Homo sapiens: one gene and its partners. The main gene of each other region encodes a partner of the protein of the gene in region 3 in a complex. Each region holds a gene or a part of one and is shown on either strand. Other genes may lie near its edges. The genes, in order: GTF2H5, POLR2D, GTF2E2 and GTF2F2.

The links.
Region 1: GTF2E2 (region 3) and GTF2H5 share a complex: the UniProt entries of both Homo sapiens proteins name them as parts of the TBP-based Pol II pre-initiation complex.
Region 2: GTF2E2 (region 3) and POLR2D share a complex: the UniProt entries of both Homo sapiens proteins name them as parts of the TBP-based Pol II pre-initiation complex.
Region 4: GTF2E2 (region 3) and GTF2F2 share a complex: the UniProt entries of both Homo sapiens proteins name them as parts of the TBP-based Pol II pre-initiation complex.

What each region holds. Positions count from the first base shown.
Region 1 is NC_000006.12:158,185,337-158,192,363, reverse strand, and holds part of GTF2H5 (general transcription factor IIH subunit 5), read right to left. Parts: intron 388-7,027; coding exon 207-387; 3' UTR 1-206. UniProt on the Homo sapiens protein: Component of the general transcription and DNA repair factor IIH (TFIIH) core complex, which is involved in general and transcription-coupled nucleotide excision repair (NER) of damaged DNA and, when complexed to CAK, in RNA transcription by RNA polymerase II.
Region 2 is NC_000002.12:127,848,156-127,855,182, forward strand, and holds part of POLR2D (DNA-directed RNA polymerase II subunit RPB4), read right to left. Parts: intron 4,951-7,027; coding exon 4,770-4,950; intron 2,531-4,769; coding exon 2,435-2,530; intron 31-2,434; coding exon 1-30. UniProt on the Homo sapiens protein: Core component of RNA polymerase II (Pol II), a DNA-dependent RNA polymerase which synthesizes mRNA precursors and many functional non-coding RNAs using the four ribonucleoside triphosphates as substrates.
Region 3 is NC_000008.11:30,606,227-30,613,253, forward strand, and holds part of GTF2E2 (transcription initiation factor IIE subunit beta), read right to left. Parts: intron 6,256-7,027; coding exon 6,073-6,255; intron 925-6,072; coding exon 831-924; intron 1-830. UniProt on the Homo sapiens protein: Recruits TFIIH to the initiation complex and stimulates the RNA polymerase II C-terminal domain kinase and DNA-dependent ATPase activities of TFIIH. Both TFIIH and TFIIE are required for promoter clearance by RNA polymerase.
Region 4 is NC_000013.11:45,263,500-45,270,526, reverse strand, and holds part of GTF2F2 (general transcription factor IIF subunit 2), read right to left. Parts: intron 3,295-7,027; coding exon 3,151-3,294; intron 1-3,150. UniProt on the Homo sapiens protein: TFIIF is a general transcription initiation factor that binds to RNA polymerase II and helps to recruit it to the initiation complex in collaboration with TFIIB.

The DNA of each region.
Region 1 (7,027 bases), on a different chromosome or scaffold from region 3:
GTTAAAGCTTTTTTTTTTTTTAAATTCTATGGTAACAAAATCAGTTCAGGGGCTTTTTTTCTGAACAAATGATCATGATCCCTCAGTCTTTCCCGTGGCATGCTCCTAAAACAACCCTCTATGTCTAATCAGTCACCTAAGATATTGAGTGGCAAGTCTTTCACAGTTGCTGCTTATAATTCCTAAATGGTCCATATTGAGTATTTTCATTTCTGGGTAAGGGAAAAAGCATTTTGGTCCATTAATTCACCCACTCGCTCCTGGAGGACATTAACCAATTCTGCTATTACAAAGACGTGAGTGTCATCAATGTCTTGAATGATGAACTTCTTCCCCAGGGCATTGGACTCATCCAAGTACAGCAGAAACTGCTTCATGGCAGGATCACTGTAAAGACAAACACATGATTGTAAGACAGCTTGTTGTCAAATCACATCACAGAGACTTGAGCAATTAAATGTGAACATGTAGAATTTTTAGAATGATTTTTAAAGTTCTGTTACTCAATCCCTCACTTCCTCTCTGCCTCAAGTGTTAACAATTTATAGACATGGCTTCATTTTAGAACTATTAGTGTAAGTTGGCCGGGTGCGATGGCTCACACCTGTGATCCCAGCACTTTGGGAGGCCGAGGTGGGTGGATCACCAGGTCAGGAGATCGAGACCATCCTGGCTAACACGGTGAAACCCCGTCTCTACTAAAAATACAAAAAATTAGCCGGGTGTGGTGGCGGGTGCCTGTAGTCCCAGCTACTTGGGAGGCTGAGGCAGGAGAATGGTGTGAACCTGGGAGGCAGAGCTTGCAGTGAGCGGAGATCGTGCCACTGCACTCCAGCCTGGGCGACAGAGCGAGACTCTGTCTCAAAAAAAAAAAAAAGAACTATTAGTGTAAGTTGAAGAGGCAGAGGCCAATGGCAAGATTTTTAAAGAATAATTTGTCACTAAGTGGAAAAAATAAAAGAATATTGAAAGCTTTGTAGTTAGTAGGGCCTAGAATCACAGCTTTCTTAACTGATTTAAACACTGAATTTCTTCCTTGTCTATGCCCATTACATCTAAGGAACCAGTAGGTGTTCAATGTTTTACCAGTGACAAATTAACTTACAAAACCAGTTAAACAGTCACTTTGGTCAGGCAGGGTGTATATCAAGAGTCATACCTGGATTCAACCCCAGCTTCATCACTTACTTGTGTGACCTTGAATAGAATAGGTACTTAATCTCCCAGAGCCTCTGTTCCCAACCTCAAAAGTGAGGCTACATAACAGAATTGTTTACGGAAATTAAAGGAGATAATGTCAAGGACAGTGCTTGGCTTGTAATAGGCATTCAAGGAAAGAGGTCCAAATTCAATTTTATTAACTTGTGGTTTTTGGTTTGGAAAGAATAGGATAGTCATAAGGGAAAAGAGGGATACAATTTCTTCTCGGGCAGTACAGATTTACAGCAAAATGTCTCTTTCATAAAAACCTTGAATCATGACAAAGGACACTCTTTAGATCTAATACACAATGTGTTTAGCAAAAAATGAATATAAAAATGTCAAGCTGCACCACAGATTTTTGCAATTCTTGAGAAAAAAATCTCATATAATCTTTTGGTGTCTTGAGAAATGTCAATATCAATTGTAAAGGTAACAATTTAATCCAAAAGATGTCACTATAATTTACTGAAAACAAGAAAAATAAGATTTAAGTACAAGCACAGGTATTAACTGATGCTAACACGGGATTTACTTCTATCCCTAGATGAGTATGAGCCTCAGAACTGATTTGGGGGACTTTGGGTTTTACCAAGTGACATGATTTAACTTACAAACTGACTTAAATTTTAACTGTAAGGATCATATTGGCTGCTGGGTTGAGAAAAGACTGGGAGTGGCAGAGGCAAGGATGGAAGCAGGGGACCCATGAGGTGACATCCAGGCAAGAGATGATGATTTTGATGTAGGTGGTAATAGTGGAGGTGATGAGAAGTGGTTGAATTCTAGATATATACTGACATAAAACCAACATAATTTGCTAATACTGGACATGAGCTTTGAGAAAGAGGAACAAGAAAACTCCAAGATTTTTCATCTGAGCAAATGGAAGACTGGAGGAGATTTTTACTGAGATAAAGAGGAATGTGTAAGATCTGCAGGTAAGATCAAGTTTGGTTTTAGGGTGGGCATGGTGGCTCATGCTGTAATCCCAGCACTTCGAGAGGCCTAGGCTGGAGGACTGCTTGAGGTCAGGAGTTAGAGACTAGCCTGGACAGCACAGTGAGACCCTGACTCTACTAAAAAAAAAAAAGGTTTAGTTTTTGATGTTATATTTTGAGATGCCTACTGGCCCCTGAGTGAAGAAGCTGAGTAAGAAGTGACCACCGAGGTAGAAAGAAAACCCAAAGAGTCCTGAAAGCGATGTGAACAAAGGCTACTCAGGAAGTGGGAGTGATCAATTCTGTCAAAGGCTTATAGGGTATAGCAAGGGCTGAAAATTGATCCCTGGATTCAGAAAGTCACTGGACCTTGGCAATAGCAGTTTTGGTGGAGTCATAATAGGGAAAGCATGACTGGAGTGGGTTTCATATGGGAGGAAAGAAATTAGAGACAGTGAAGAGAACCAAGTCTTCTCTTTACTGAGAAATTTTGCTACAACGACCAGAAAGGTAGACTGGAAGCTAGGAAGAGGTGTGGGACTCTGAACAGATGGGAATATCAACAGACCATAGGTCTGGCGAAGTTGAAGAAATGATGGAGTGAGGTATGAGAGGGAGTGAACTGGAAAGAGGAGGTGGTGGTCAGAGTCAGATGCCTGAAATGAGACTGAAGAGCTGGCACGAGGGTAAGGAAGGATAGGTCTAGCTACAACTATGTGAATGAGTGGCTGTGATGAGGTGGAGGACAAGCTCAGTGGAAGAGGAGGCCAGGGAACTGGGAGAACAGGGTATCTAAAGGACTACCCACACGGATACTAACATCACTAAGGATTTGAGAGAAGAGCTACTGAAGATAGTTTTTTCAAGGGAAAACCTTCAGGACAGATTGGGGTGTCTGTAGATGATTATAAAGAGGAGGGTTGGTGGGTAGTCCACTCTGATGATCTGGGATTGATAACTGGGGGTTTCTATGGAAGAGGGAGGGAGAATTTCTGGAAGTGGCAATAATAAGCAAGGTACTGATCCTGTTTCCTGACCCAATGGTACAAGAGGGTGCCTTTGTAGAGGAAAAAAGGCACCACCTGATAAGGTGGTGGGAGAAGCAGTGAGCTCAGGACAAAGTCAGGTTTTGTCACAGCAAAAAAGGAAAAGGTGGGTGGGGGAAGGAAAAAGGAAAGTTCAGAGAAGAGGCTGAGGCTACAGGGCATCCTGCTGCTGCCATCTCACTATGTCCCAGAGGGCAAAGTGGAAAGGATTGCGGTGGGTAGGTGGGGGAGGGTGGTGGGTAGGAGATGGTGAACAGGGCCATAGATCATGAAAATGCAAGAGACAGAGATAGCTTGGGAGTCTGTGGTTTATTGGGTGACTGAAAAAAAGGAAAAATCGGCATATAAGGCTTAATGAGAATGAGGATCTCCGGGATGACACTGACATGCAACTGAATGGCAACAACAGCTGGTGACAGGAGGATGAATGGGGTATTTTACAAACAGAGCATAATGGTCACTGATTTAAGCAGATACAAAAAAATGTTAAACTTCACATTTTCAGCAATTCTCTAATTTGAGTATTATACAGAATAAGAATTTAAATGAAAAGATTTTCTAGAACAGTAAGACACTGTACACTGAGAAATTTCAGAGGTAAACAATTGATTAATTATTGACAAAGAGCACAGGTGGAAACATAAAATAGAAAAAAGCTTGAAGAGCAATTCTAGAAGGAACGTGGGGTTGATGAAGCAGGTTAAACAGGGTGCTTCCCGATGATATTGCAGAAAGGAAAATGAGGCCTATAGGACAGAGAAACCAAAGTTTCAGTTTCTTGAAAACCATTGTTTTTCTACTCAGACTCTTTAAAAATTTAGTTGTTTCCCTCAAATCTTCCTTGCACATACAAATAAAGGTAGAAGGGGAGGGACTGGTGGGGAGAATAAAAGGAGAGTAATTCAACAGTAGACAGGTATGATGGCTGGGGAGGGGAGAGTCAGACAAAAACCTGGACTTCAGTGCTCTACAATTAAGCTTTCCTTGCAAACAAGGGAGGACTCATATGACCGTGGTGCCCACTTCACTCTCCAGGCCCCACAAGTACTTCAATATATTCTATAAAAATCATAGAGGTTTCTTAGTATACACTTTACACAATGGGATTGTAAACCAAAAATAAAGTTCTAAGCACCCCACCCCCCATCTGCCAACTGACTGATGGACCCTCCCCTTGGCTAAGGGCATTCCAAAGTTAACCTGAAAAACTAGTTCAGGCCATGATGGGAATGGGGGTTGGGCATGCCTCATACCCACCTCCCTTTGAATTCAGGCATAGCTGACCAGTATTAACATTAAAACAGAGATCTTGGCCGGGTGCGGTGGCTCACGCCTGTAATCCCAGCACTTTGGGAGGCCGAGGCAGGCGGATCACGAGGTCAGGAAATCAAGACCATCCTGGATAACACGGTGAAACCCCATCTCTACTAAAAATACAAAAATTAGCCAGATGTGGTGGCAGGCACCTGTAGTCCCAGCTACTCGGGAGGCTGAGGCAGGAGAATGGCATGAACCTGGGAGGCGGAGCTTGCAGTGAGCCAAGATCGCGCCACTGAACTCCAGCCTGTGCAACAGAGCGAGACTCCATTTCAAACAAACAAACAAAAAAACAGAGATCTTAAGACCCAGGTAACAGACTTTTTGTAGGAATAAAACACCAAATTCCAGCTTGACTTTTGTAAAGCATCACATGGCAGATGGCAGGCCCTGAAAGAAATTGTATTTTACACCAAAATATGTTTCTTTGACATATTTTGAGACGGCCCTGCAAAGCTGTCTCTTGTGGGAATAATCGACTCTGTAGAGACTCTCCATTCCTTTCCAGGTCTTTTCCCTGATCCAGGGGAGTCTGGCACCTTTTTAGGTCTGATAAGAGCTCTGGGCCAGGTGCGGTGGCTCACATCTGTAATCCCAGCACTTTGGGAGGCTGAGGTGGGTGGATCACCTGAGGTCAGGAGTTCGAGACCAGCCTGGCCAACATGATGAAACCCCGTCTCTACAAAAAAATACAAAAATTAGCCGGGCGTGGTGGCAGGCGCTTGTAATACTACCTACTCAGGAGGCTGAGGAAGGAGAATCGCTTGAACCCAGGAGGTGAGGGGTGTAGTGGGCCGAGATCACACCATTGCACTCCAGCCTGGGAGACAAGAGGGAGACTTCGTCTAATAAGAACAAAACAAAACAAAACACAAAACAAAACACAAAACAAAACAAAAACAACTCTGAAGCCTGCTACCTGGAGACTTCATCTGCGTGATAAAACCTTGGTCTCCACAGCTCTTTACCTTAACCCACACATTCCTTTCTATTGATTCCAGGTCTTTAGATAATAACTCTTTCAATCAACTGCCAATAAGAAAATCTTTGAATCTACCTATGACCGGGAAGCCCGCCCCCCATTCCCCTTGCTTTGAGTTGTCCTGCCTTTCCAGACTGAACCAATGTACATCTTACATGTATTGATTGATATTTTGTCTCCCTAAAATGTGTAAAACCAAGCTGTAGCCCGAACACCTTGGGCACAAGTTGTCTGGACCTTCTGAGGATATGTCATGGGCATGTCCTTAACCTTGGCAAAATAAACTTCAAAATTGATTGAGACTTGTCTCAGATACTTTTTGATTTACAGGACCAACAGTTGTTTTGTGTTAGCCCTTTAAAATAAACTTTGGATCCAAATGTAACAGTAATAAAAGACAAACTGGACATTGAAACATTGCTGTCTGCATGTGATAGATTAACTTGTTACAGTTTGAGCTCAGTACATTCAGATGACACCAATTTATTCTCAGTAACTGGCTACTACTAACAGGTATTAAAGGCAGCAAGAGTTAAGTGGTTATGAAGACTTTGGGAATTTTCTAAATGGAATAAATTTACATCATCTTAATGAAGTCAGAGCTAAACCACTAAAACCAAGAAGCGCCTCAGGACTCATATCTGTGCTGAATCATCACACCAATGCTTTCAAAATGTTTGCCATTTGTATACCATCCTTGCTATTTTAGCCATCTCTTGTAACATCTCTGTTGCAAATCACTTAATATTTTTCTTTAAATTGCCTTTAAATCAACTAACGTTTCATCTGGCATAAAACCAAGAGTTTGATATGTCAGTTTCCTCTTCTCCTCAAATAAATTAAACTGGTCATATAAAAAATTTTTTTGCTCTCTTTATTTTTTTTGAGACAGAGTCTCACCGTCACCCAGGCTGGAGGGCAGTAGGCGTCATCACGGCTCACTGCAGCCTTGACCTCCTGGGCTCAGATGATTCTCCCACCTCAGCCTTCCCAGTAGCTGGGACTACAGGCACATGTCACTGCACCCAGATTTTTTTTGTATTTTTTTGTAGAGATAGGGTTCTGTTATGTCGAACTCCTGGACTCAAGCAACCCACCCGCCTCGGCCTCCAAAAGTGTTGGGATTACAGTTGTGAGCCATTGAGCCTGGCCTATTTTTCTATTCTACTCCCCCAAAATGTATGTTCTTCAAATCATCTTGAACACTAATGGTATTCCGCACACTTGGGGAAATATGCTAACTGACAAATGAGACAGCTTAGAGGAATGACTGGCCAGTGAACACTGAAATAACGCTTTAATATCAATCGCTTCAAACTTTTTTTTTTTTTTTTTTTGAGACAGGGCCTCACTCTGTTGCCTAGGCTGGAGTGCAGTGGCACAATCCCAATTCACTGCAGCCTCAACCTCCTAGGGATGAGGTAATCCTCCCACCTCAGCCTCCTGACTAACTGGGTCTACAGGCGCACGCCACCATGCCTGGCTAATTTTTGTATTTTTTGTAGAAATGGGGTTTCACCACATTGCTCAGGCTGGTCTTG
Region 2 (7,027 bases), on a different chromosome or scaffold from region 3:
AGCTCCTCATCTTCAAACCGTCCCTCCAAGCTACAAGAAAATGAAAAGAAATGAGTGATTTGGCGACTGGCAATTTCCCCGCACTCTTCTTTGAGGCGTGCTAATCTACTGCCCACATCTCTAACACCTTTACCTTTCATCTGGATTTCTTTTCCACTTTTCCTGATAAAACATTACAAAATATTTCAAACATATAAAAGATAAAAGGTATAAAAAATATACCTTTACAGTTAGCCCCACTTGACTTAGAGGTTTTTTTTTTTCTTTTTTTTGAGATGGAGTTTCGCTCTTGCCTCTTAGGCTAGAGTGAAGTGGCATGATCTCGGCTCACCAAAACCTCCACCTCCAGGGTTCAAGTGATTCTCCTGTCTCAGCCTACCAAACGGAGTCTTGCTCTGTCGCCCAGGCTGGAGTGCAGTGGCGCAATCTCGGCTCACTGCAAGCTCCGCCTTCCGGATTCCCACCATTCTCCTGCCTCAGCCTCCCAAGTAGCTGGGACTGCAGGTGCCCGCCACCACGCCCAGCTAATTTTTTGTATTTTTAGTAGAGACAGGGTTTCACTGTGTTATCCAGGACGGTCTCGATCTCCTGACCTCGTGATCCGCCCGCCTCAGCCTCCCAAAGTGCTGGGATTACAGGCGTAAGCCACCACACCCAGCCCTCACCCAGCTAATTTTTATATTTTTAGTAGAGACGGGGTTTCACCACTGGCGAGGCTGGTCTCGAACTCCTGACCTCAGGTGATCCTCCTGTCTCAACCTCCCAAAGTGCTGGGATTACAGGCATGAGCCACCACGCCCGGCCCTGCATTTTTTCATTTACTGTCTTCATGTTTTCTAATGGTATCAACCTCCCAAAGTGCTGGGATGACAGGTGTGAGCCACCACACCTGGCCAGAGTTTTTTTTTGGGACAGAGTGTCGCTCTATTGCCAAACTGGAGTGCAGTGGCGCAATCTCGGCTCACTGCAACCATCACCTCTCGGGTTCCAGTGATTCCCCTACTTCAGCCTCCCGAGTAGCCGGGACTACAGTCGCACACCACCACACCCAGCTAATTTTGTATTTTAGTAGAGATGGAGTTCCACCATGTTGGCCAGGATGGTCTCAACCTCCTGACCTTGTGATCCACCTGCCTCGGCCTCCCAAAGTGCTGGGATTACAGGCTTAAACCACTGCGCCCAGCCCAGAGTTCTTTAATAAGCAGGAAAAGTGGATGGCTGTGTATACTCTCCTAGACCAGTACCTTCCCTCCTTCCCCAGAAATAACCACCATCCTCAATTTAGTATTTATCATTGCCATACATTTAAAAAAAATTTGTTTTGCCATACATATTTTTATACTCACTACACATTTATGGATACGTAAATAATATGCAGCATAGTTTCAAACTTTATAAGAAATGGCATCATACTGTATTTATCCTTCTGCAATTTTTTTCCTCAAAATTCATTCTGGCATATGTTGATATTCCATGTGGTTCTAGTTCATTGATTTTTTTTTTACTGCTGTATAATAAACATTGTATGATTATACAATGATTCATTTATCCATTTTCTTACTGGCCAAGAGATTATCAAATTTCTGCTATCATTAGCAGTGGAGCATGAGGCTGGGCACCGCGGCTCATGCCTGTAATCCCAGCACTTGTGAGGCTGAGGCAGGCAGATCACTTGAGGCCAGAAGTTTGAGACCAGCCTGGCCAACACGGTGAAACCCCATGTCTACTAAAAACAAAACAATGCAGCAATGAACACTAAAATATACGTCTCCTTCTAAATTTGTGTGAGTTACCTTTAGGATATGTACCAGGAATGGATTTTTGGAACTTGGAGTATATTCATCTTTACCAGACATAGCCAAATCACTCTCCAAAATGATTGTTCTAATTAACACTCACAATCCTACCATCAGCGTACAGAAGTTCCAGCTGTTTCATATTTTTGCTATCACTTGGTGTGGTATAAAACCATCATTCTCACACACTGTTAAAAGGGCACTTTTGGCTGGGCACGGTGGCTCACGCCTGTAATCCCAGCACTCTGGGAGGCCGAGGCGGGTGGATCAACTGAGGCTGGGAGTTCGCGACTAGCCTGACCAACATGGAGATACCCCATCTCTACTAAAAACACAAAATTAGCCAAGTGTGGTGGTGCGTGCCTGTAATCCCAGCTACTCGGGAGGCTGAGGCAGGAGAATCGCTTGAACCCAGGAGACAGAGGTTGTGGTGAGCCGAGATCACACCACTGCACTCCAGCCTGGGCAACAAGAGCGAAACTCCGTCTCAAAAAAAAAAAAAAAAAAAAAAAAGGCACTTTCATTCAATATTGGCAATTATGTACCCAAATATATAACGCATACACATTTTAGACACACCAATTCTATTTGTAGGAATTTATCCAGTATACAGAGAACTTATCACAACTGGTACTAACCTTGGGATTAGAGCCTTGGACTCCTCAGCAGTCTCTGGGCAAAGGTTGGCCAAACAGGCCAACTCAAACTTATGAAGCTTTTTCTGGAGTAGCAAGCTAATCAAAAGGAAAAAAAAAAAATCAAAATAATCAAAAACAAATAAACAACAAAAATCAAAGAGTAATCAACAGGAAAAAAGGGATCAAACGTAGCTAGTATTTAAAAATAGCTAGACGGCCAGGTGTAGTGGCTCACACCTGTAATTCCAGCACTCTGAGAGGCCAAGGTGGGTAATCACTTGACGTGAGGAGTTCGAGACCAGCCTGAGCACCATGGCGAAACCCCGTCTCTACTAAAAATACAAAAATTGCCAAGGCGCAGTGGCTCACGCCTGTAATCCCAGCACTTTGGGAGGCCGAGGCGGGTGGATCAACGGAGGTCAGGAGTTCAAGACCAGCCTGGCCAACGTGGTGAAACCCCGTCTCTACTAAAAACACAAAAATTAGCTGGGTGCAGTGGCGGGCTACTCCCAGCTACTCGGGAGGCTGAGGCAGGAGAATTGCTTGAACCCGGGAGGCGGAGGCTGCAGTGAGCCAAGATCACGCCACTGCACTCCAGCCTGGGTGACAGAACTAGACTCCGTCTCAAAACAGACAAACAAACAAACAAACAAAACCAAAAAAACAAAAAACTAAAAAAATTAGCCGGGTGTGGTGGTGTGTGTCTGTAGTCCCAGCTATTTGGAAGGCTGAGGCATGAGAACTGCTTTAACCTGGGAGGTGGAGGTTGCAGTGAGCCAAGACCGCACCACTACACTCCAATCTGGGTGATGAAGTGAGACTGTCTCAAAACAAAACGAAACAAAACAAAAAAAAGGTAGAAGAGGCCAGGCTTAGCAGCTCATGCCTGTAATCCTAGCACTTTGGGAGGCCAAGGCAGGAGGATCACTTGAGTCCAGGAGTTCAAGACGTCTTCAGCCTGGGCAACACAGTGAGACCTTGTCTCTAAAATCAATGAATAAATACATAAAATAAAAATAGCTAAGGGAGACTTGACATGTTCCTAATACATAGAAATGATCAATACCCTCAATACCCTAACATACTCATTACACATTCTAAGTAACAAAATATCATATGTACCTCATACATAGGTACAAATACTATTATCTATCTATCTATCTATCTATAGGCTGGACATGGTGGCTTACCTCTAATTCGAGGACTTTGTTTTTTTTGAGATGGAGTCTCACTCTATGTCACCCGGGCTGCAGTGCAGTGGCACGATCTTGGCTGACTGCTACCTCCCTCTCCCGGGTTCAAGCAATTCTCCTTTCTCAGGCTCCCAAGTAGCTGGGACTACAGGCATGCGCTACCACGCCCAGCTAATTTTTGTATTTTTAGTAGACGAGATTTCACCATTTTGGTCAGGCTGGTCTTGAACTCCTGACCGCAAGAGATGTGCCCATCTTGGTCTCCCAAAGTGCTGGAATTACAGGCATGAGCCACTGCACCCGGCCAATCCCAGCACTTTGGGGGGCTAAGGTTGGAGGATCAATTGAGGCCAGGAGTTTGAGACCAGCCTGGACAACATAGTAAGTCTCCCCATCTCTAAAAAAAATAACAAAAAAAGTTACTTCCCCACTAACAGTACCATTTAGATCACACATACTGGACTTACACAAAATATGACAGATTCATATTTGAATCTGTTCCCAGACTGGAGTACAGTGGCACAATCACAGCTCACTAAAGCCTCAACCTCCCAGGCTCACATGATCCTCCCACTTCAGCCTCCCAAGTAACTAGGACCACAGGTACCTGCCACCACACCTGGCTAATTTCTGTATTTTTTTTGTAGGGACACGAGTTTCACCATGTTGCACATGCTGGTCTTGAACTCCTGGCCTCAAGAGACTGGTCCACCTCAGCTCCACAAAGTGTGGATTACAGGTGTAAGCCACCACACCTGGCTGAAATTCTGGTCTTCTAAGTTGCCCAGGTTGGAGTGCAGTTGCGCAATCTCGGCTCACTGCAACCTTGGCCTACAGATTCAAGCGATTCTCCCGCCTCGGCCTCCTGAGCAGCTAGGATTAATGGTGTGTACCACCAGCTAATTTTTTGCATTTTTAGCAGAGACGGGTTTTTGCTATATCGACCAGGCTGGTCTTGAACACCTGGCCTCAAGTGATCTGCTGCCTCAACCTTCCAAAGTGCTGGGTGTGAGCCACCATGCCCAGCCTAACATTATTTTACTTAAATTCACAAGTGACACCTGGGAAAGGGGGAGGGGACAGCATTCTACATGCAGTTGTCCAATGGTTTGGATTAATAAAAACTTTCTTTTAGCACTCACCTACGAACACTGGCAATGGTCTCTCTGTTTTTGAAACGACTGAAACGGGCTGTGTAGTTTAATGTTTTCATGAAGACTTCTGAGAGCTCCTGTTCGTCCTCTGCACTCTCATTCTGCTGCTTTCGATGTTCCAGAAGCATATGAACTTCTGAATTTAGAAGTGTCTCAGCTGTTTCAAACTCTATTTGTAAGAAGCATAAATGGCAGCTGAAAATACTCCTTCAAAAGTTTGCTTCTAAATGTTCACTGTGCATTTGAACATTTCTCTGCCCCTGCAGAAATCGAGGGGTTTCCTACTCCACATCTGCTTTTTTTTGAACTTTTATTTTAGGTTCAGAGTGCATGTGCAGGTCTGTACTACAGGGAAAATGGGTGTTGTGAAGGTTTGGCGAACAGACTATTTTGTCATCCAAGTGATAAGCATAGTACTGATACATAGTTTTTCAATCTGCACCACCCACCCCCTCAACTAGGCCTCAGTGTCTGTTGTTCCCTTCTGTCCATATGTACTCAAGGTTTAACTCCCACTTATAAGAATGTGAGGTGCTTGGTCTTTTGTTCCTGTGTTAATTGCTTAAGTGAATGGCCTCCAGCTCCATCCATGTTGCTGCAAAAGATATGATTTCGTTCTTTTATTTTTTTTTTTGAGACAGAGTCTCAATCTGTCACCCAGGCTGGAGTGTAGTGGCATGAATACAATTCACTGCAGCCTTGACCTCCCTGAGCTCAGGTGATGCCCCATCCCCATCTCGGCCTCCCAGGTAGCTGGACTGCAGGCACACGCCACCACACCCTGTGTGTTGTTGGTAGAGATGGGGGTTTCACCACACTGCCCAGGCTGGGATCTCCTTCCTTTTTATGCCTGCAGCTACTCCACATCTTTAAGTTCACCCACAGTTACATACCACAAGGCACAGTTACATACCACAAGGCACAGTGGAGTTCACGAGACACTAACATTTAGCTTGTCTGAGCTAGATTCTGACACCAAAAACCTGACCTAGACATGCTACTAAGTAATGACACATAGACTAGTTACTGATTTCAAGAGTACACTGACAATTCCTTCCCTCTAGCCGGCATCAGCTCATCATCTTCCTACTTCCATAATGCTAGTATTATACTCTCAATTTTAAGAATTGTTACATGTTAAATAGGGCCAAGTGTCTGGAAATAAATATAATGTACCCCAAAATCTATTTTTGTGCACACACAAATGTTATAAGCAATTTTTAAGAATTAGGTTTGAGAGAAAAAGAAACCCATGGCCCCTTTTCATAATATACGGCGACCTTCTACATTTCTACAATAGTTCTGTTAAAAAATGCTGTTACCCTTGGGAAAATCATTCTCTCCCTTACGTTCCTGCAGGATCTTATGTTCCTAATGTTTATCTCAAAGTATTAGAGATAGTTTTTATCTGCCTTTCTCTTAACAGTGAGTTCCCTTAGAGTAGGAACCATTCATAAACATGAATTCATGTTTATAACCCCACACTGAAGAGGAAGCAACAGTGAGGAAAAGCCAAAACGACTTGCAATTTCACATTTAGATGTGCTATGGGTCTGTTTACTATCAGGGAAATCACTAACACCTCCCTCAGAGTAATGCCTTCCCATTTCTCAAGCCAGGTAACTGACAAGAGCTTCATTTTCCTTTTACAACACAGATAGTTTTAAGTGGTGGGTCAGGAGGAAACTGTATTTTTATTTGAAAGGTACTCATTGCTACTAAATAGAATAGGCTGCCAATACAGTTGGAGCACTATTGAAATAAAATTAAAATATAAATTAAAAAATAGGTAACCAAAAACTGTTTTCTACCTGAGGGCAGGAGAGTTTAAACGAAAACCTCAGAACACCTTCTTTTTCAGTCTTCTAGCCTATAACAGGGGATTTACTACAGTGAGAGCCTATTTGTATACCAGGAAAGTTACCTCTTTTAATCCTTAACACTGAGGCAGTGTAGGTACAGAAGAAACTACTGCCTCACAGCAATGAGTAGAGGAAAAGGCATTATGTATCAGGACTGCAGAACCTCCAAACTCTGAAGTGACAGTAACAAATGACATCAGGCCAAAAAAAAAAAAAAAAAAAAGGGAAGCAGCAGCTAATCAGTTACAAATCTGTTTGTTGGAACTTTGATGCTTTTACAGGTCCTGGAAAAATCAATGTTAAGAGATGCCTCCCAGGCTAAGCGCAGTGGCTCACGCCTGTAATCCCAACACTTTGGGAGGCCAAGGCAGGTGAATCACCTGA
Region 3 (7,027 bases):
CTCAATTGGGATTTTCACAAAAATACAATTTCCTAAAACAAGTTCAGGGAAACTAAAGCCCTATCTACCAGAACCACAAGCCTGGATATCTATAGACAGATAACAAAAGGAAAACTTAAGGTTACTGCACAAATCACAAAATCAATTAAATTGATGTCCAATTATTTTCCTGCCATTTTATAAAACTTCAAAAGTAATACAAATTTACAGTAAAATACCACCAACACTTGCTAAAATGGCAATTGGTAAACTTGAATAATACATTTTTCATCACTAAACCCTTGTTTAATGACAAATTATTGACAAAAATTTAAAACTAAAGTCCAAACATACGTATCATATACTTAGTAAGAGATTCAATATACAGCTTAGCATCCAACTCCACAATTTCCAGAAAGAAAAACATCATCTCCTTCCTTATTCAATTTGATAACTGAAAGATTCATAAGATAAGAGAACACTATTCACCAATAAAAGTTTATTCTTTTTCCCATCCTGTATCAAGCTTTTGTATCAGGATATGAACTTACATTTGTAAAAGTCTAAAGATAAAGAAATAAACCCGTTTGGTTCAGTTGAGCTATAAACATTAAGAAATCCTGAACTGCGATTGTAAGTATAATTAACCTAAAATCTTTCAAATCACATATTTCAAATTGCATTCTAAGCAACAATATGTTAGACACAGGGGCCACTGGCTGTGTTCTAAGAAATGATAATGCTAAAAAAGCAATATAAGATTTAAATTATAATTGTATTATAAATATTAATTTTACCACCCTAAAATTGTAATATACTTGCAAACTAAAGTATAATACAGAAAAGCTCACCTTCATCCACAGAAAACTGACAGCTCTTATCATTGAAGAAAAGTATTTTCTTCTTATCGGGACGATTTACAAATAGTATCTGGTCCCCCAAAGCCTTAAAGATAGATAAAATAAAGATTTTTCAGTTAACTCCAAATTACCTCACCAAAAAAAAAAAAAATTTAAACAATAAAGGAGTTTCATTTCCTTAACACACTCAGTATACCACCATAGGGTCCTCCACCATAGGTCCACTGGACCCAATTTTAGTTTTAGTTTTGTTTTTAAGAGACTCCACCCAGACTGGAGTGCAGCTCACTGCAGCCTCAACCTCCCAGGCTCAAGCAATCCTCCCACCTCAGCCTCTGGAGTAACTGGGACCACTGGTGCATTGCCACCACGTCTAGCTAATGTTTTCAATTTTTTGTAGACAAAGGGTCTCACTATGTTGCCAGGGCTGGTCTTGAACTCCTGGGCTCAAGCGATCTTCCCACCTCAGCATCAGAAAGTACAGGGACTATAGGTGTGAGCCACTGCACTCAGCCCCAATTTTAGTTTTTGAGTTTCTTTCTTGAGTAGTTCAATTTTTTAAAAATTGATATTTCCAGACTTGTATTCTTAGAGGTCTTCCAAAGAACAAAAATAAAACGTGTTTCACTTAAAACGGAAAATTCAATCTTTGCTGCAATTACTATTTGGGTCCATGGGGCTCTTTCACTAATCTAAGACACATAATAGAATCTTGGTGTTCTTACTTTTCCTCTACCTTGAGATATTTCGCTCCTTACTCATCATTACCCATCAATTATTTCCAATTGTGCTTTTAAAACGCTAAAATAATAAGAAAATAGAAGAATGATTAAATCACCTAGAAATGTGATGCAATAGTGAAATACATGGGCATCCTTCAGTTTTCTTACTGCATTGCCCAAAGGATTACATTACTCCTTTTCAAGAGATATAAAAGATTGGAAGAGTCTTCTTGTTGTCTTTTAACTTTCATTGAGTACACCTGACAAAAAAAATTTTGTATTTTCTACCCTTGAGAGCAAAGACAAGAAAACTGACCAAAGACATTTCACAATTATTAGATGAATCAAAATATGAATGCAAAAAGCCAAATAGCAGCACTCTAGACTATCTGGCAAAAATTCATCATAGGAATAAAGTCTCAAGCTATGGAGTCTTTAGATGACAATAACTCAAGTGAAGATTCTCAAGCTTAAGAATCAACAAGCGAACAAAATGCTTCTCAATACAAAATGGAAACAATATTCTCATCCCGTTATTCACCAGAAGATTATCACACAGTATTTTGTGAAAAGAATCTTTATCATCTCACTTTGCTAAAAGGATATATGACAGTATTCTTCTTTTTGATGTGTTTTCCAAAAATTACTTGATACAGAAGTTTGCTGTGTTAAATTCTTACTAAAATCTCTAATAAAGCTGTTTTCATCATCCCATTATTCTTACTTATGTAAATTATTCATAAAATGACTTAAAGTAGCTTAAAAATAATAGTCCACTAGATCAAGGTGGTAAAAGGTGATAACTACAGGATGAGCAACCCAAATCCCAAAATCTCGAATCCAAAATCCAAAACTTTTTAAGTGCTGACATGACATGCCAAAGAAATACTTACTGGGGGCCAGGTGTGATGGCTCACACCTATAATCCCAGCACTTTGGGAGGCAGGAGGATCATTTGGGGTCAGGAGTTTGTTTGTTTTGAGACGGAGTCTCACTCTGTCAACCAGGCTGGAGTGCAGTGACGCGATCTTGGCTCACTGCAAGCTCCGCACGGTGGCTCACGCCATTCTCCTGCCTCAGCCTCCCGAGTAGCTGGGACTACAGGTGCCCGCCACCACGCCCGGCTAATTTTTTGTACTTTTTAGTAGAGACAGCGTTTCACCATGTTAGCCAGGACGGTCTCAATCTCCTGACCTCGTGATCCACCCGCCTCGGCCTCCCAAAGTGCTGGGATTACAGGCGTGAGCCACTGCACTCGGCCGAGGTCAGGAGTTTTGAGACCAGCCTGGTCAACATGGTGAAACCCCATCTCTACTAAAAATAGAAAAATTAGCTGAACACGGTGGCAGGTGTCTGTAATCCCAGCTACTTGGGAGGCTGAGACAGGAGAATCTCTTAAACCAAGGAGACAGAGGTTGCAGTGAGCTGAGATCACCCCACTGCACACCAGCCAGGGCAACAGAAAGAGACTCCGCCTCAAAAAAAAAAAAAAAGAGAAAGAAAGAAAGAAAGAAATACTCACTGGAGCATTTTGGATTTCAGATTTTCAACTCTGGAATGTTTAAACTGGTATAATGAAAATATCCCAAAATTTGAAAAAAATCCCAAAATCTGAAACAGTTCTGGTCCCAAGCATTACAGATAAGGGACAGTCAAATTGTACATACATAAAATAAATGAAAGAACCTGAAGGCATTGCTAAAAAAAATTAAAGACATGAATAAATGAATTCTGTGCTCATGTATTAAAAAACTTAATACAGTTACGATGGCAATACTACCCAAAGTTACCTATTCAAGGTAATCCCTATCAAAATCCCAATGGCATTTTTTGCAGAAATGGAAAAATCCATCCAAAAATTTATATCAAATCTCAAGGGACCTCAAAAAGCCTGAAATGGTTTAGATCTGTGTCCCCATCAAATCTCATGTCAAACTGTAATCCCCAATGTTGGAGGTGGGGCCTGGTGGGCGGTGACTGGTATGAAGGTGGATTTCCCTCTTGGTGCTGTTCTCCTGATAATGAGTTCTCATGAGATCTGGTCATTTAAAAGTGTGTGGCACCTTCCCCACTCTCTCTTGCTCCTGCTCCGGCCATGTAAGATGAGCCTGTTTCCCCTTCACCTTCTGCCATGATTATAAGTTTCCTGAGACCTCCCCATAAGCTGAGTAGACACCAGCATCATGCTTCCTGGAGAGCCTGCAGAACTGTGAGCCAAATCAATCTCTTTTCTTTATAAATTATCCAGTCTCAAGCATTCCTTTATAGCATTGCAAGAATAGACTAATACATAGCCAAAACAATCTTGAAAAAGAACAAAATTGGTGATCTCACTCTTACTGATTTCAAAATATATTACAGAGCTACATTAATCAGGCCAGGTGCAGTGGCTCACACCTGGAATGCCACCACTTTGGGAAGCCGAGGGTGGGCAGATCACTTGAGGTCAGGAGTTCGAGACCAGACTGGCCAACATGGTAAAACCACATCTCTACCAAAAATAAAAAAATTAGTTGGGTGTGGTGGTGTGTGCCTATAATCCCAGCTAATCAGGAGGCTGAGGCAGGACTACTGCTTGAACCTGGGAGGCAGAGGTTGCAGTGACCCAAGATTGCATCACTGCACTCCAGCATGGGTGACAGTGTGACTCTGTCTCAAAAAAAAAAAAAAAAAAAGGCTACATTAATCAAAACATTGTAGTGCTGGCATGAAGAAAGACATACAGGCAGAATAGAGGGCCCAGAAATAAACCTTCACATATATGGTCAAATGATCTTCCACATGAGTACCAAGACTAAGACTATTCAATGGGCAAAGGACGGTCTCTTCATCAAGACACTGAGAAAACTGGATATCCACATGAAAAGGAATAAAGTTGGACTCTTACACCATATACAAAAATTAACTCTAAATACCTAAGACCCAAAACTATAAAACTCCTAGAAGAAAACATAGGACAAAAGCTTCATGACATTAGATTTGGCAGTGATTTAAACATGATACTAAAGGCACAGGCAACAAAATCAAAAATAGACAAGAGTGCAGCAAACTCAGAAACTGGCAAATTAAAGAGCACAATCAACAGAGTAAAATGGCAACCTACAGAATGGGAGAAAATATTTGCAAATCATGTATCTGTTAAGGAATTAATATCCAGAATATATTTTTTAAAACTCCCACAATTCAACAACAAAAACACAATGGAATATTATTCAGCTTTAAAAAGGAAGAAAATCCTGTTGCAAGTACAACATGGATGAACCTTGAGAATATTATGCTAAGTGAAATAAGCCAGTCTTGGAAAAAGATTCCAAGATTCCAAGCAAACGGGCTAAGGCTAGAAGAACAGAAGAGACATATCATATGCTACCTGCTGTAGGGCAGACAAGGTTTGGAGTAACTGCCCACTTAACCACAAAACAAAACAAATAGAAACACTCTTGGGAGGAATGTAACAGAATCCTGAGTCTTTACACATATTAATATAATCCACAAGGTCTAAGACCCAACAGAAATGTATTAGATATATGAAGAAACAGGAAAATATGACCCATAAAAGAGACAGTCAATGCAGACCAGCTCTGAGATGACTCGGCTGTTAGAATAAGAAGAATTTTAAAGCAGCTATAAGAAATCATACTTAAGGGTGTAACAAAAGATACTTGTCACGAATGGAAAAAAAAGAAAACAAAATTCAGCAAAGAAACAGAAACCAGAAGAAAAATTTACAAAGAAAGACTAGAACTGAAAAATACAATTAAAAAATTCACCAACTGGGCTTAACAAGTTGGAAGTGAAGAAGAAAAGTGAGTGAACTTGACAATGGATTAATAGAACAGAAAAAAAATTGAAATAAATAAACAGAGCCTCAGGGACTTGTAGTACAATACCAGAAGATCTGACATGTATAATTCCATTACCAAGAAGAAGAGACAAAGGGGCAAGTTTTCTTCTACAGGCAGCAAAATGAATGAACCTGCTTAACAAGTTAACATTAATAATGAGCAACTGTGACAAATGGAAACAAGCAGCTTTCCCCAGTGAGTTTCAAATTTAAACTGGAAATGTCATCTGTATCAGTAGGACTTTCATAGATAGCCCCTTTAGGACTTCAAAACAGCCAGGTTATTAACCAATGCTTTCATGTTTTAATGCCTCTAGTTCCTCAGGTAAGGAACATCTACTAGTATTATAGAAGACACTCTTATTTACAAACAGAGCTTACAAGAGAAACTCTATTGCCTTTGAGGAAAATTTTCCAGAAATAGCCTGAACAATCAAACAATCATATAGTAACAGCAACAAGAACCCGTCAAAGTTACACAGAGATGGCTGCTCCCTTTCCTGCTAGGTGGCACAAGACAAATTTCAAACCTTCAAGTGGCTCACTGTAACCCATGTGTATATAATAGAAGCTTTAAAAACAATTGTAAAATGTTTGATATTTTTAAAACCAAGAAGTCATTATTCATTCAAATTATATTAAGACATAGAAAGAAAAGAGAGATTACCTTGACAGCTTTCTGGGAATTGGGCAGTGCTTCTTCTATGTCTTCTAAAAGAATTCCTCCTAATCCTCGCTGGTCATGCTGATCTAAGAGCCTAAGTAGGGCCTTCTTATCTCTCACGTTGTACTTGGGCTTGAAAGCATACTTCCCATCTATTACTTCAATTTTGGGATTGTTGACTAAAGCCTGTAACAGTGATACAATTGGAATATATTAACAAATGGAACATAAATATATATATATATTTTTGAAACGTAATCTTGCTCTGTCGCCCAGGCTGGAGTGCAGTGGCGTGATCTCAGCTCACTGCAACCTCCGCCTCCTGGGTTCAAGCGATTCTCCTGCCTCAGCCTCCCTCTCCTGCCTCCCTCCCTCTCAGCACCTGGGACTGCAGGTGCGCACCACCACACCCAGCGAATTTTTGTATTTTTAGTAGAGACGGGGTTTCACCACATTGGCCAGGCTGGTCTTGAACTTCTGACCTCAGGTGATCCACCCACCTCAGCCTCCCAAAGTACTGGGATTATAGGCGTGAGCCACTGTGCCCAGCCCATATACACATTCTTAATTCTACTAATTATTTTAAAATACAACACTAGCCAATACAGTGGCAAATTAAAAGTACCTTATGAATACAAACTGGCAGGCCTAAAATCCTGGACATCCAGAATTCCAGAACAGTAGATCAGCACGGTGCTCACTTTTTATAAAAGAAACTGTGTTTTATTTACATAAATTCTTTGAAGAGAAATAAACCATTTTATCACAACTACTTTGAAAAAAGCTGAACCCATATTCTTCTAGTAGTCAAAATGTGTAGGAATCAATAAAACACCTACAAATATTAATAGACAAAGTGAACTGAGTAGTGCCCACTCCATCTGCAAAGTACAGCTTATCACATACTGGCATTATAAAGTAAGGAACATAACCCTTACTAGTCAATGGTCTTCCCCAT
Region 4 (7,027 bases), on a different chromosome or scaffold from region 3:
TTGGTGGCTTTATAAAAAGAGGGAGAGGAAGAGAGACCTGAGCTAGCACGCTCAGCCTCCTCACTAAGCGATGTAAAAAGCCTCTTACCAGACGTGGCCCTTTGATCCTGGACTTCTCAGCCTCCAAAATTTTAAGAAACAAATTATTTTGCTTTAAAAATTGCCCAGCTTCAGGTATTCTGTTATAAGTAACAAAAAACAGACTAAGATAATATATCTTTAAATGGATACTATGTCCCCGACTTTATATCAGTTACCAAAGCTTGGCCTCCTTGATGAGTAACTTTCACTCTTTCTAGTTGCTTATGTAAGTCACATACTGGCAAACAAGAGAAAAAGACGGGCCCTAAGCAAAGTTTCTCTAGCCAATAATTTTACTTATAGAAATGAAGGTTTTGGCCAGGAACGGTAGCTCACGTGTAATCTCAGCACTTCGGGAGGCTGAGGCATGTAGATCACCTGAGGTCAGGAGTTCAAGACCAGCCTTGTCAACATGGTGAAACCTCATCTCTACTAAAAATCCAAAAATTAGCCAGGTGTGGTGGTGGGCGCCTATAATCCCAGCTACTCAGGAGGCTGAGGCAGGAGAATCGCTTGAACTCGGGAGGTGGAGGTTGCAGTGAGCAGAGATTGTGCCATTGCACTCCAGCCTGGGCAACAAGAGCAAAACTCCATCTCAAAAACAAACAAACAAAACACCCCACCCCCAAAATAAATTATAATTTGAACATATTGGTAAATTTTATATTATTACATATGTTAAGTGAACTAAATATAAGTAATGTATTAAATGTATTTAAGTACCTTGTCCAGGACTATTTGGCTAAATGGTAGAGCTGGGACTTGAACTAGGATCTCATACTCCAAATCCAGGTTCTTTCCATTATACCAGAACACCCCCTTTCCTGGACCATTGATCTTCATGCTAGAATAGATTCCTCAAGTCTCTTGGGTACTGATGACCATTAGTACAGATTCACTTATGTCCTCGAATCCTTTTAAAGGGGGATAGTTGCCTACTTGGGGGAGAGCTAGACTTTGGCAACTTTCTTTCCCAGTCAATGGACTGGAATCCATGCTGACCACTTCCTGCCCTCTCCTCTAGGAGGAGGTAACTACCTCTGGCCTACCCCCAGCCTGGGGAAGGCATTCCACACTTTCTTGGCACTGGCTCTTTGCCCCAACCTCACTATAAATGACGTGAGAGGCCTGCCAAAATCCATCTGAAGAAAATATGGTGGCCCTTGGAGACTGAGGATTTTCTTTTTTCAAATCAATTCATGAGATATTTGCTGAATTTTTACCATCTTTTACACTATGGGGTATATGAATATTTAGGGATAGGAATAGCATACAACTCTGCCTTCAGGAATCTTATGCTTATTGAGGCAATTTAGTCTCTAAATAATAAAACTATTATTTAAAAAGTTAGTTTTGAGATCAGCGGCTTCTATGAGAATCTGATACAAACTATGGATGATATGTTCCCCAGAACAATTCATACATTTTTGCAGATTTTCAGGAAGTTAATGGATCCCCTTAAGTCCATCCACTGGTTAGGAATTAAGAAGCTCTGTTGTAAGAGATTCACTGAGTACTACCATATAAAAAATATCTTAAGAACCAAAACCAAAAGACACACTAGTAATACTTGTTCTTTGATGCAAAATGAATAAACCTTATATCCCATGTGAAGGCAAAGAAACTGCTTTCCCTAGTATCATCTGAATGCCCCTCTACAAGTGATTATTTTCCATATCTAATTTTTTGTGTTTAATTCCATGAGAATCTCGTCTGTTTTCAGAGTTTCTGGAAGGGTCTTTTCATACAGATATATTTATATATATAAATACAAAGATAAATTTCATTAAAACCAGAAGAAACACAGCTTAGCTAATGAGTTATTTATTCTATTTCAAAAAAAATTTTTAATCTAGCTTAGAATGCTGTTTCTAAGGCTTTGATGCCAAAGGGAGTGAAGTCATTGGGATGAATTGATAATACTCCACCATGAGCACTTTCTTCTTATTAAAAAGTAAATCTTTTGGAATTCAAATTAATTTCTTAACAAAAGGCAAGGGTTGATGTATAATAGTAAAGAAATATCTGCAGGAGAAACTGTATAATGAACATTAAAATTTCATAAATCATTTCCTAAAGCTTTGTATAAATAAAAAAAATCAAGTCCTTTCACAAATAGGTTATTTGGTTATGTTAAGATGTTTTTTAAAATTGGTTATTGTTACATATTCTGAATCCAATAAATGGAGCAGCAAGAATCAACAGATTCTTGAGTATACCGGCAGAGTAGACAAAATGGTAAAGGAAATGAGATAAAAGGGTTTCCATTCAATTTTCTTAAACCTATAAGTAAATACTCAGTCTGATACTTTGGTGACATGTGGTGGAGAAAGTTAAATGGAAAACAATGTGACTCAAAGACTAGAAAAAGAATTTGAATTTCTTATTGTTATCATCATTTTAAATGGATTATTAATGCAAATTACTAGTAAATGCACAAAAGCCTAGAGAAGAGATAAAAATGACTATAAAACAAACATAAACTTTCTAAAATACGAATTTGTTAAATTTGTCCTTAAAAATGGGGAACAGGCCAACCTAATCACAATCTCTGCAAGCATAATTTGAAAGTGCAGTTCAGTTCAGGTTTAAAAGGACCTACACAGATTCTAATTAAAAAAAAAAAAAAAAAAAATCCACAGAAAACAATTCACAAGACAGGGATAAACCCTCCCACAATGACAAAACAGTATAATTCTTTAAAGAATGCGATTTTTCTATGAGGCATGTTTTCCAAAAAAAGGGAAGGAGTTAAACTTTCTCAGAGGAAGATAGGGAAACAAAATAAAGACCAGAAATGGTATCAACAGATTTCAGGCTTAATGTCAAGAATAAATGAACATGAGGATAATTTCTTTTCTTCATAAATAATTATTAAGAGTACTAAAATGTAAAATAAAAGCTGATGTTACCAAAAATGGCTGCATTAAGACATCTTTTCTGAGTGTTGTCATAAAATTAGTCATTAGCATAGGTAAATGTGAACTAAATCATGTATGACACACTTTCAGTAATGTCGTGTTAATGAAGGAGGGCATATTCAAAGGATCAGTATGAACATATACATACCACAGGTTGCTTTGTGATGTCCACCAAGTCCTTAAGATTATAGTATTGATGTTTCTCAAAGGCTGAAAATAGCATGTCTAAAACATGTTGTTTATCAGCTCGAGCTCGCTTTCCGTCTTCTTTCTTTTTCCTTTCATATTCGATCTATATGCAAACAGCAAAGGAAATAAAAGCATCAATTCAACATGCTCACTCTAAAACACAGGCATTCTCTTTTTTTTTTTTTTGAGACAGAGTTTTGCTCTTGTTGCCCAGGCTGGAGTGCAGTGGCATGATCTCAGCTCACTGCAACCCCCACCTCCTGGGTTCAAGTGATTCTCCTGCCTCAGCCTCCCGAGTAGCTGGGATTACAGGTGCCCGCCACTACGCCTGGCTAATTTTTTGTATTTTTGGTAGAGACGGGGTTTCACCATGTTGGCCAGGCTGGCCTGGAACTCCTGACCTCAGGTGATCCACCTGCCTCAGCCTCCCAAAGTGTCGGGATAACAGGTGTGAGCCACCGTGCTTGCCCAGGCATTCTCTTTTGAGTCATCCATTAACGACTAGATCGTAAGTTTCGAGGCAGCAGGCCTCTGAACAGTAGTTCAGAACCTGGGACCTGTTACTCCTGGGGTCCCCGTATCTTTAAGGCTCTAAGTTAGTAATAATTCCAGTCACTTTCATTATCCCCTAAAGCTTTATGTAATGCATAATGTGTACATTTCCCCCCAAAAAGGCCTTTTGCCAAAACTGTATCAATTCAGTGCGGTTAACTGGTTATCTTGTGTTGATCGAAAACTCTAACGTGTAGTGCTTTTGTTTTTGATTAACAGTAAAACAGTTTATCTAACAGATGCAGTTTCATAGGTAACATCTTTCAAATGTGGGGTTCTTGGAGGCAGGCAGATTATAAAACGGGTTCTTTACGGAGTGAAAAGTTTGGGAAGCATTGGTAAAAAGGAAAGGACATGGACCTTTTCTCATCCTGACCCTGTGCAACCTCCTTGAACCTGTTTCTCTTCCCATACAATAAAAGTTAGTTTAACAAGAGAAAGGGGTAATTATATACTTATCATCTCAGACACAAGCAAACCATTTTTCTGAAATTCCCATTTAAAACTTCATGTGACCTCTAAATTCACCTGTATAATACATCTTTATTTTTTAACATGAAGTAAAAAATACAGTATCTACTATCCAAATAAAAATGACACTTCAGGACCATGTGTTATGTTTATTCTGCAGTTTTGTGTACCTCCATGCATGCCAGCTTAAAAAGCAGTGGCACTAACACAATGAAGAAGTTCCCTCCTACTGTTACCATCCTGGGACTGTTCAATTGTAAAACATCACCCTTTTTACTTAAAATATGCAAGTTCTGTTCTATTACTTAGTTAATTGAGATATTTGTTTGTTTCTTTTTAGGAACACTTCACTTGTATAAACCATCAGAAACTTGTTGAAGGGGCCAACCTGGTGAAGAAAGCATCAGTAGGTTGGGTGGAAACTGCCAGAGAAGAATGTCCTGTGGGTCAGCTGGAATAATTATAATCTGGGGACTAGCTTCGAAAACAATGGGATACATTTAAAAACTTACAAATAAATTATTCCACAAATAGCCTCAGGTAGTTAGCTTACTCTATTTTAACAATAAAGATTTGTTATAAAAGGATAAAATTTAGTTTCTATTGATTTATTGATATTAAAACTAAAAATATGTCTTATGAGAGACTGTCAAATTAGTGGTAAAAGGTAACTGAAAACCTTGAGTATCTACTTTTCAATTAAATAAAGTTGGGAGTGAGACAAAGGGAAAGGACTCAATCATCTTCATTTTTTGATATGTACGAACTGGGAGTAAAACTCAAACTCCACTGAGCTTCAGCAGATTAAGCATGACTATATGCTAGGCATTGCGCTAAGATATGGGGAGAGTAAGACAGCTTTTTCTTTCTAAAACGGCTTTAAATGGATTAAAATGATTAGAGAGGGGAGGGCCTTGAGCATTTTAAATGCAGTAATGGACAAAGAGCTACCTAGGACAAGATCACCATGCTTAAAAAAAATGCAAATGAATGACACAGATTGTATTGTTAGGGAAGACTGAAATCCAGCCAGTCTCAATTTTTTTTTTTTTTTGAAATGGTGTCTCACTCTATTGCCCAGGCTGGAGTGCAGTGGTGCAATCTCGGCTCACCACAACCTCCACCTCCTGGGTTCAAGTGATTTTCCTGCCTCAGCCTCCCGAGTAGCTGGGATTACAGGTGCGCACCACCATGCCCAGCTAATTTTTGTATTTTTAGTAGAGACAGGGTTTCACTATGTTGGCCAGGCTGGTCTCGAACTCCTAACCTCGTGATCCGCCCGCCTCGGCCTCCCAAAGTGCTAGGATTACAGGCGTGAGCCACCACGCCTGGCCTCAGTCTCAAGTTAAATTCAGGAAATAGCAGAGAAGTGATGGTATACTCAGTTTCCACCTTCAGTAGGCTGTTTCTTGTGTAAAATGATTGGAGAAGCTAGGAAGTTTAACATGAAAAATGTTTTCAAATAAGCCCACTGGTAAAGTAAGATAACCTACTTTACAGAGGGCGCACATTCTAGTTGGCTGTGGAGAGAAAACTTAAGTGTTGTTATCAAGTTGTCCCAACCCAGAGTCACATGTCAGATGCAAGAGGACCTGAATCAAAGGTAAAAATTAATAAATTAGAAAAGAACTTTAAAATCAACACTAGGGATAAGAGTAAGGGTCGGATTAAGTTGTAATTAGTAACATTAATGAGTAGTAAGAAAATTACCGAATTCTACCCAGATTTTTCAAAAATCATGGGGCCAGGCGCAGTGGCTCACGCCTGTAATCCCAGCAACTTTGGGAGGACAAAGTGGGCGGATCATTTGAGGTCAGGAGTTCAAGACCAGCACGGCCAAGTCTCTGCTAAAAATACAAAAAAATTAGCTGGGCGTGGTGGCACACGCCTGTATCTCCAGCTACTAGGGAGGCTGAGGCAGCAGAATCGCTTGAAGCCAGGAGACAGAGGTTGCAGTGAGCCAAGATCGTGCCACTACACTCCACTCTCAGCAACAGAGTGACTCTGTCTCAAAAAAATAAAAAAATAAAAAAATAAAAATAAAAAATAAAAAATAAAAAAAAAATCTTGGTTTACATGCTTCAATCTCAAATTGAAGTTAATGTTGGTGCTTTCTCTTTAAAATTAGAAAAACAGACTAAAAATATATGCTTATCTTTCTGTGTTAACATGTATATCACTGGTTTAGTTCCTGGGGGCACTGCAGCCTACCTCTACATTTGCCTAGTGAACAAAAACTGTTTTTTTTCTTCCTGTCCGAAATATTTGTTAATTGTTTACTTATCAAGACGAACTCTTTCTCAGCCTAGATATTCGTGTTTCATAGTTCACGAACACAAGTCAGTGACAAACTTCCATGTGATTCAATCCAAGCAAATTCTTTATATTCCCAAACCACTTTGCACTCTGAAAGATACCAGCCTTCCTCATCTCCTCAATATCTTTCATGGAATCCTAATTTCTGAAGAAATCTGCATATGCCTTATTTCTTGCTTCAGCACAGCAAACTTACAGAGAGCTGCAACCCCCAGGGATGCAATGAATGCTCCAACAACATAAAACCTCAGATGCATGGCGTTTGGTTTCATCAAAGCACTGGAAACCATGGTAGTTATTGTCCTTGACAGGCATATGTCAATCTTAAGTAATGAGATTCAGAAAATAAAATTAACTATATAGTTTATTCGAGCCCAAAGCTTGAGGATAGCCACCTGGAAGCATAGTTTCAAGGTATCCTGACTACATAATCTGTAGTAAACAAAAACTCTTAAAAATGTTGTCTGTAAGCCAGGTGCGGTGGCTCACGCCTGTAA